Linked DNA regions of Homo sapiens: region 1 is linked to region 2. The links come from fine-mapping of genetic effects on gene expression. A gene starts in region 2. The other region holds a variant in brackets. All regions are shown on one strand. Distances are between the middles of the regions.

Region 1 (2,898 bases), 630 kb after region 2:
CAGGGTAGCAGGGCTTGGCCATGAAACTGTCCTGGTGCAAGGAACTGGGGCTGTGCTGGTGAACTCCTGGCCTCTGATCTCTTCTCTTCCTCCACTCTCAAACTCCACATCCTGGAAATCCTTGAAGACTCTTCCATTCTGCTCTTGGACCTGCCTGGCACATGGCTGCTGCTTATGGATGATTTGTTCCCTTGAGTGGACTTCCAGGCTCGAGTTCCAGTGAAGAATTTTTGGGAGATACTCAAAGGAGAAACGAATCTCTAGGCTTGCCCAGTGGCCCTGGGGCACCCTCTTTCCACGCCATCCTCCATCCCCAGCGATGCTTGGCTGTAGTCCATCTTCCTCTTCTCTGCCCCTGCATTTCCATCCCAGGAGGACCACTGGGCACAAGGAACATCAGAAACCAGGGAGCAGTGTGCATTGGGATTCCTTCCAGACGCTGAGAGCTGAGAAGTCGTCCCCCTTTCATAACCTTGCTCAGGCTCAGGAGGTCTCAGTGTTAAGCAAACAGCCCTTGAAAGAGAAAAGCCACATTGTCCTCCCCATGCTGATGGCCTGGCCTCAAGAGCCACCAGTTGCTCTGACTTGAGAATGGTTAAGTGGAACTGCCGAGTGTTTGTGTGTGTGCGTGTGCACACGAACACACGTGTGGTGGACGGCCCAGCTCTTATTCCAAGAGCTCTTCTTCTTTTTTTTTTTTTTGTTTTTGAGAGGGAGTCTCACTCTGTTGCTCAGGCTGGAGTGCAGTGGCATGATCTCGGCTCACTGCAACCTCCGCCTCCCGGGTTCAAGTGATTCTTCTGCCTCAGTCTCCCAAGTAGCTGGGATTACAGGTGCCCGCCTCCATGCCCAGCTAATTTTTTGTATTTTTAGTAGACACGGGGTTTCACCGTGTTGGCCAGGCTGGTCTCGAACTCCTGACCTCAAGTGATCCACCCATCTCGGCCTCCCAAAGTGCTGGGATTACAGGCGTGAGCCACTGTGCCTGGCCCAAGTAATTGCTTCTGTAAAGGGAGAGAGGGGACGGGAAACATCAGGGAGGTACGCAAGTTGCAAATGCATAATGCTAAGGCTGTTATGGTGGTCTTGGTGTGAAAACAGTGGTAGAAAATTTGAAAAGTTGACAGAGGCCTAGAGATGAAATACATTTGTTATCTTCTTGAAGCTCTGGACCAGATGTTCATATCGCGTTGGCAGGATGGAACCATTCCATGGATATTCTACGTATCTTCCTTCTTTCACTTTATAATAAGACCAATTTTCTATGTTGCAGCCTACATTGATAATTATCTTCAATGGTGCTTGAGGGCCAGTGAGTCAGTGGGCCATTGTTTCCTTAACCAGTCCTTAACTCTTGGCCTTTGAGTTCCAGTTTTTCACCACAGATTGCACTTTTGTGCCTTGCTTTTTTTTTTTGTTTTTGTTTTTTTTTTTTTTTTGAGATGGAGTCTCACTCTTTCGCCCAGGCTGGAGTGCAGTGGCACTATCTCGGCTCACTGCAAGCTCCACCTCCCGGGTTCACGCCATTCTCCTGCCTCAGCCTCCCGAGTAGCTGGGACTACAGGTGCCCGCCA[T/C]CACACCCGGCTAATTTTTTTCTTTTTTTGTATTTTTAGTAGAGATGGGGTTTCACCGTGTTAGTCAAGATGGTCTCGATCTCCTGACCTCGTGATCCGCCCACCTCGGCCTCCCAAAGTGCTGGGATTACAGGCATGAGCCACCGCGTCCGGCCTTTTTTTTTTTTTTTTTTTTTTTTTTTTAAAAAAAAGGAACATCTGAAGTGACTTGAGTCTCTGATCTGGCAGTCATAACCCTTATCCCGTTCCTTGAGCCCCAGGGAGGTTGGGAGAGGGGGAAAAAAAACAACTGTGCTATCCATTCTGGGTCCTCTTAGCCAGGGGTGTGGAGGCTGGGGAGTGAAGGGCGTCTATGGGATTGGTCAGTGGGCAGCGGCTTCCAGCTGTGGCGAGGGAGGTGTCAGCTTGCTGCTCTTGCTGTGGGTCTCACACTCTTCCTCCATCCATCCCCCTGAGCTTCGAAGAAGAGCTCTTATTATTAAAGCTGTCCTTGAAAAACTCTCTGCTTCTTGGGCATTGAGGAGCAGGTCCAAATGGGTCATCTTCTCCCTACCTTCTCCCTGTCTGTCTTCTCCCATCTGTGTCTTAGCCTTTCCTTCTTCTCTCCATACCTGCCCTTGGTGGGTTGTTTACCCCAGTTTCTCATCTTTTCTCATGAAGGAGGAGGAAGCACCCAGCAGCTGGCGTTTGCCAGAGCTGCAGGTAAAAGGGACCAGGTTACCACCAAGACAGGAGAGACGGGGCTTTCCAGGCAGAAATCCCTGAATCCCCTGGTCTAAGTGCTGAGTAAGCACTCGACTCCCTGGGGCCCTGAATGATGGAAGAGAGGGAGACTATTAGGGCTGACGCCAGACAGAATGCACGCTCGCAGGTGGATCTGACTTTTTGTGTTTTGTGGTTTAAAAATGTGCTTGCCTTCTGTAATCCCAGCACTTTGGGAGGCCAAGGTGGGAGGATCACTTGAGGTCAGGAGTTCGAGACCAGCCTGGCCAACATGGTGAAACCCCGTCTCTACTGAAAATATGAAAAAATAGCCAGACGTGCATGCATGCTCATGTGCACACATATGCACACCCCCCACCTTGCCTTTTATAGAGCCATGAGGCAGCAGATTCAACCGAATACCATGTAGCATGAGCCACAGACGTGTATGGGAACATTTATGAACGCTTGCCTATAATCCCAGCTACTTGGGAGGCTGAGGCAGGAGAATCACTTGAACCCGGGAGGCAGAGGTTGCAATAAGTCGAGATCACACTATTGCGCTCCAGCCCGGGTGATGGAGTGAGACTCTGTCTCAAAATAAATAAATTAATAGGTGGGG
Region 2 (2,890 bases):
TAGAGACGGGGTTTCACCGTGTTAGCCAGGATGGTCTGGATCTCCTGACCTCGTGATCCACCCGCCTCGGCCTCCCAAAGTGCTGGGATTACAGGCGTGAGCCACCGCACCCGGCCAATAAAAATTCTTTAGGAACGCAAGCTGCAGCTCCAATATGAGGATGTGTTTGTTTACCTCCCATCCTTCCTCATTGTGTCTAATCAATAGCGTTTGGGGGGAAGAACACGGGATAAGGAGAACCTGAATGAAAAAAGCCTTAGTTCTGAAAATGAAAATGTTCAGCTATTAAAAGGTAAGGGCTTGGCCGGCTGTGGTGGCTCATGACTGTAATCCCAGCACTTTGGGAGACCCTGTCACATACATACATAAAGTTAAGGGCTTGATAGCTGGTACCCTCAACAACTCCCAAAGGGTAGAACAGCTATTTGGGGTTGTGGAAGTTATTCTTGGGGAGATAAGGGGAAGGTTGGGATGAGGAAGAAATGACTTGGAGTGCAGGTGTCAACATAGGGGAGAAACCTGAGGAAAAACAATGTCAGGACATGTTATATAGGTGAGCGTTGAACTGTCAAGACAGAAACTCCTGGCGTTTTCCGCTAAAATTGAAAGGAGCCCAGTGAGGTGTAGGAATCAAGGCCCGGAAGTCGGGGGAAAGCGCCTGAAGAAACTGTTGAATGGCATTTCCAGAACGGATCAGCAGCCGCATATGTGCAAGGAAGGCTGGCACTGTCCTCTGAGGGGGGCCCAAAGGGTGAGGGGCGGATAGGCTCCTGGCTAAGGAAGGTGAGGACTCGCGGGGTCTGGGACTGACAGAGGGGGGCGGGGTTGACCTGCAAGGCCAGGGGCTCCGGGACCCGCCTGCGGGTCGCAGGGTGGGGGCACGGGGACTGACCTGCTGGGCCCGCGGTGGCCGGGGCGCGGCCGAGCCGGCCTGGCGGAGGCGGGCGCAGTACTGGTCGGTGGCCTTCACGGCGTCCACTAGCCCCACGGCGCAGCGGCGCATCTGGCCGATGGTGTCGGCCGCCTCGATCAGGTCGCGGTACCGTTCGCCCACCATCTGCCGCAGCTCCTCCTTCTTGTGCTCGATCTCGGCCCGAACCTGGCGCTCCAGCCCGCGGATCTCCTCCGCTCCATGCGTCTCGAAAAGAGCCGCAGGGTCGCGCAGATCCAGCCGCTTCAGCGCGGGTGAGGTTGCCGCGGTGGCCATGGTGCACTCGTCAGCCCCCGGCGATCTACCTACGCCCTTTTAGTCCCGCCCCCTCCGCCATCTTCGTTGGGGGCGGAAGCGCTTCCGCCCCGCCGGGGGCCATGTTTGTTACCCGAGGGGGCGGGCGCGAGGGGGCGGGCGCGAGGGGGCGGGCGCGAGGGGGCGGGCGCGAGGGGGCGGGCGCGAGGGGGCGGGCGCGAGGGGGCGGGCGCGAGGGGGCGGGGGCGGGCGCGGGCGCGGGGGCGGGCGCGGTCCTGCGCGGGGTTTTCTTAAACGGAGCCGGCTGGGAAGTGAGGTCGCCAGAGAGGTGAGGTCGCCAGGTTGGCTGCGAAACTGTGGCTGAAGTCTTCCCTTTCCCTTAGGAGCAGAGCTTCTCTGTGGAGTTAGGTGTCGGGATCGGGCCCCGCGGACTGACGGCGTTGGCGCAGGCGCAGCCGCCGCTCTCCGCGCGCCTGGCGCCCGCGAGCAGACTCGGGCGCGCTCGCCGCCGCTGGGTCTCGGATCGCACCCCGCGTGCAGTTTTAGGAAGAGGGACATCCGCGCCCCTCGCTGTTCCCCGGGAAGAGCTACCACGCCGCCCCTGAAGGGGTTCTGAGCGCTTGTTTGGCGTCTGCTTTTCCTCTGCTGTTGATTCGTGTTGGAGGTTTTCCATTTCGTTTAAAACCGATGTTTAGCCCCTGAAGACGTTTTCCCTGCGAGAGCCTGACCTTGGTGGCCATGGGGGAGGAGGGCGGCGGGCTGGGCGGGAGAGGCTGGGACGCCCCGGGGAACGCAGCGCCAGACGGGTGGGCGCTCCTCACGTGGCCCAGGAATAGTAGAATCTGGAGATTGTGGCTTGTTTCTGCTAAGTCCCAGACCCTTCTTTTTTTTTTTTTCTGTTTTAATTTCTTTTGGAAGATTTCACCCACACCAGTGTCGACAAAATGATGCAATGTGCGCAGCGGCCATGCTGAGCCCCCAGCAACTCAGGGCCTACCCTGCATCCCTGCTCATTCCCTCTCCCACCCGCCACCTCCGGACGCACAGAATTTCAATCTGCAAATAAATGGTGCATTTATAATATTCCAGTTTAACCCGCAAGAGCCTTGCGGCGTAGGGAGTATCATTCTCACTTTACAGACTCATTTTACAGATGGGGAAACGGGGGCCCGGAGAGGCAAAGGGTTTTTTACTCAGTAAAAGTGCAGTTTTCAGAGCCTGTCCACGAGATTATCTCATTTTCTCGCACATCGGCCATGCCAGGTAGGTAGGAGTAATATTCCTAGTCCATTTATGAGGAAAAAAAAAAAAGAAACAAAAGCTTATTTACCTGCCCAAATTACATAGCTGATAGGTGACCCAGTGAGTATTTGGACGTCGATTTTTAAATTACTGGCTCGCGCTCTTTTCTACGTTTTCACATAATTTCCCACAGAGCACCCTCTGTTGGCAGGCCTGCAGTTTGCAGTCTCTAATCCCATTCTGCAAGGGACACTTACTGGTATTCGGCTGATAAGCATCCGCAGTATCTCCTTTCTGTGATTGGGGAATTCATCGCTATCTAGCAAAATCTTTTTTTCTGGCGCCCTTTATAGCTACGGTGCCAGCCTGCGGCCTGGGACTGGCACAGCAGGCACAAGCGCCTAGGACTTGGGTGAAGAGTTAGTGACATTAAGAAGCAGGCTGTAATCCCAGCACTTTGGG

Alleles and levels. Positions count from the first base shown, and alleles are read on the strand shown. Sizes are in standard deviations (SD) of each study's normalised expression.
For the expression in tibial nerve of the gene that starts at base 1,222 in region 2, C is the high allele of the variant in region 1 and T is the other (moderate effect, 0.54 SD a copy in GTEx).

The links.
Region 1: its variant is fine-mapped to the expression of COG1 in tibial nerve (GTEx, PIP 0.99).

What each region holds. Positions count from the first base shown.
Region 1 is chr17:72,563,619-72,566,516 of GRCh38, reverse strand. All of the region lies in intron 1 of LINC00673 (long intergenic non-protein coding RNA 673), which reads left to right. Among named protein-coding and RNA genes, the nearest start is that of LINC00673, 28 kb to the left of the region's middle. The variant T/C (reference allele first, on the strand shown) is at 1,575.
Region 2 is chr17:73,191,387-73,194,276 of GRCh38, reverse strand. It overlaps COG1 (component of oligomeric golgi complex 1), which reads right to left and starts at 1,222. Exons shown (of 14, transcript NM_018714.3): 1 at 893-1,222. The coding sequence starts at 1,207. RefSeq lists a silencer at 731-940 and enhancers at 991-1,270, 1,901-1,950, 1,236-1,995.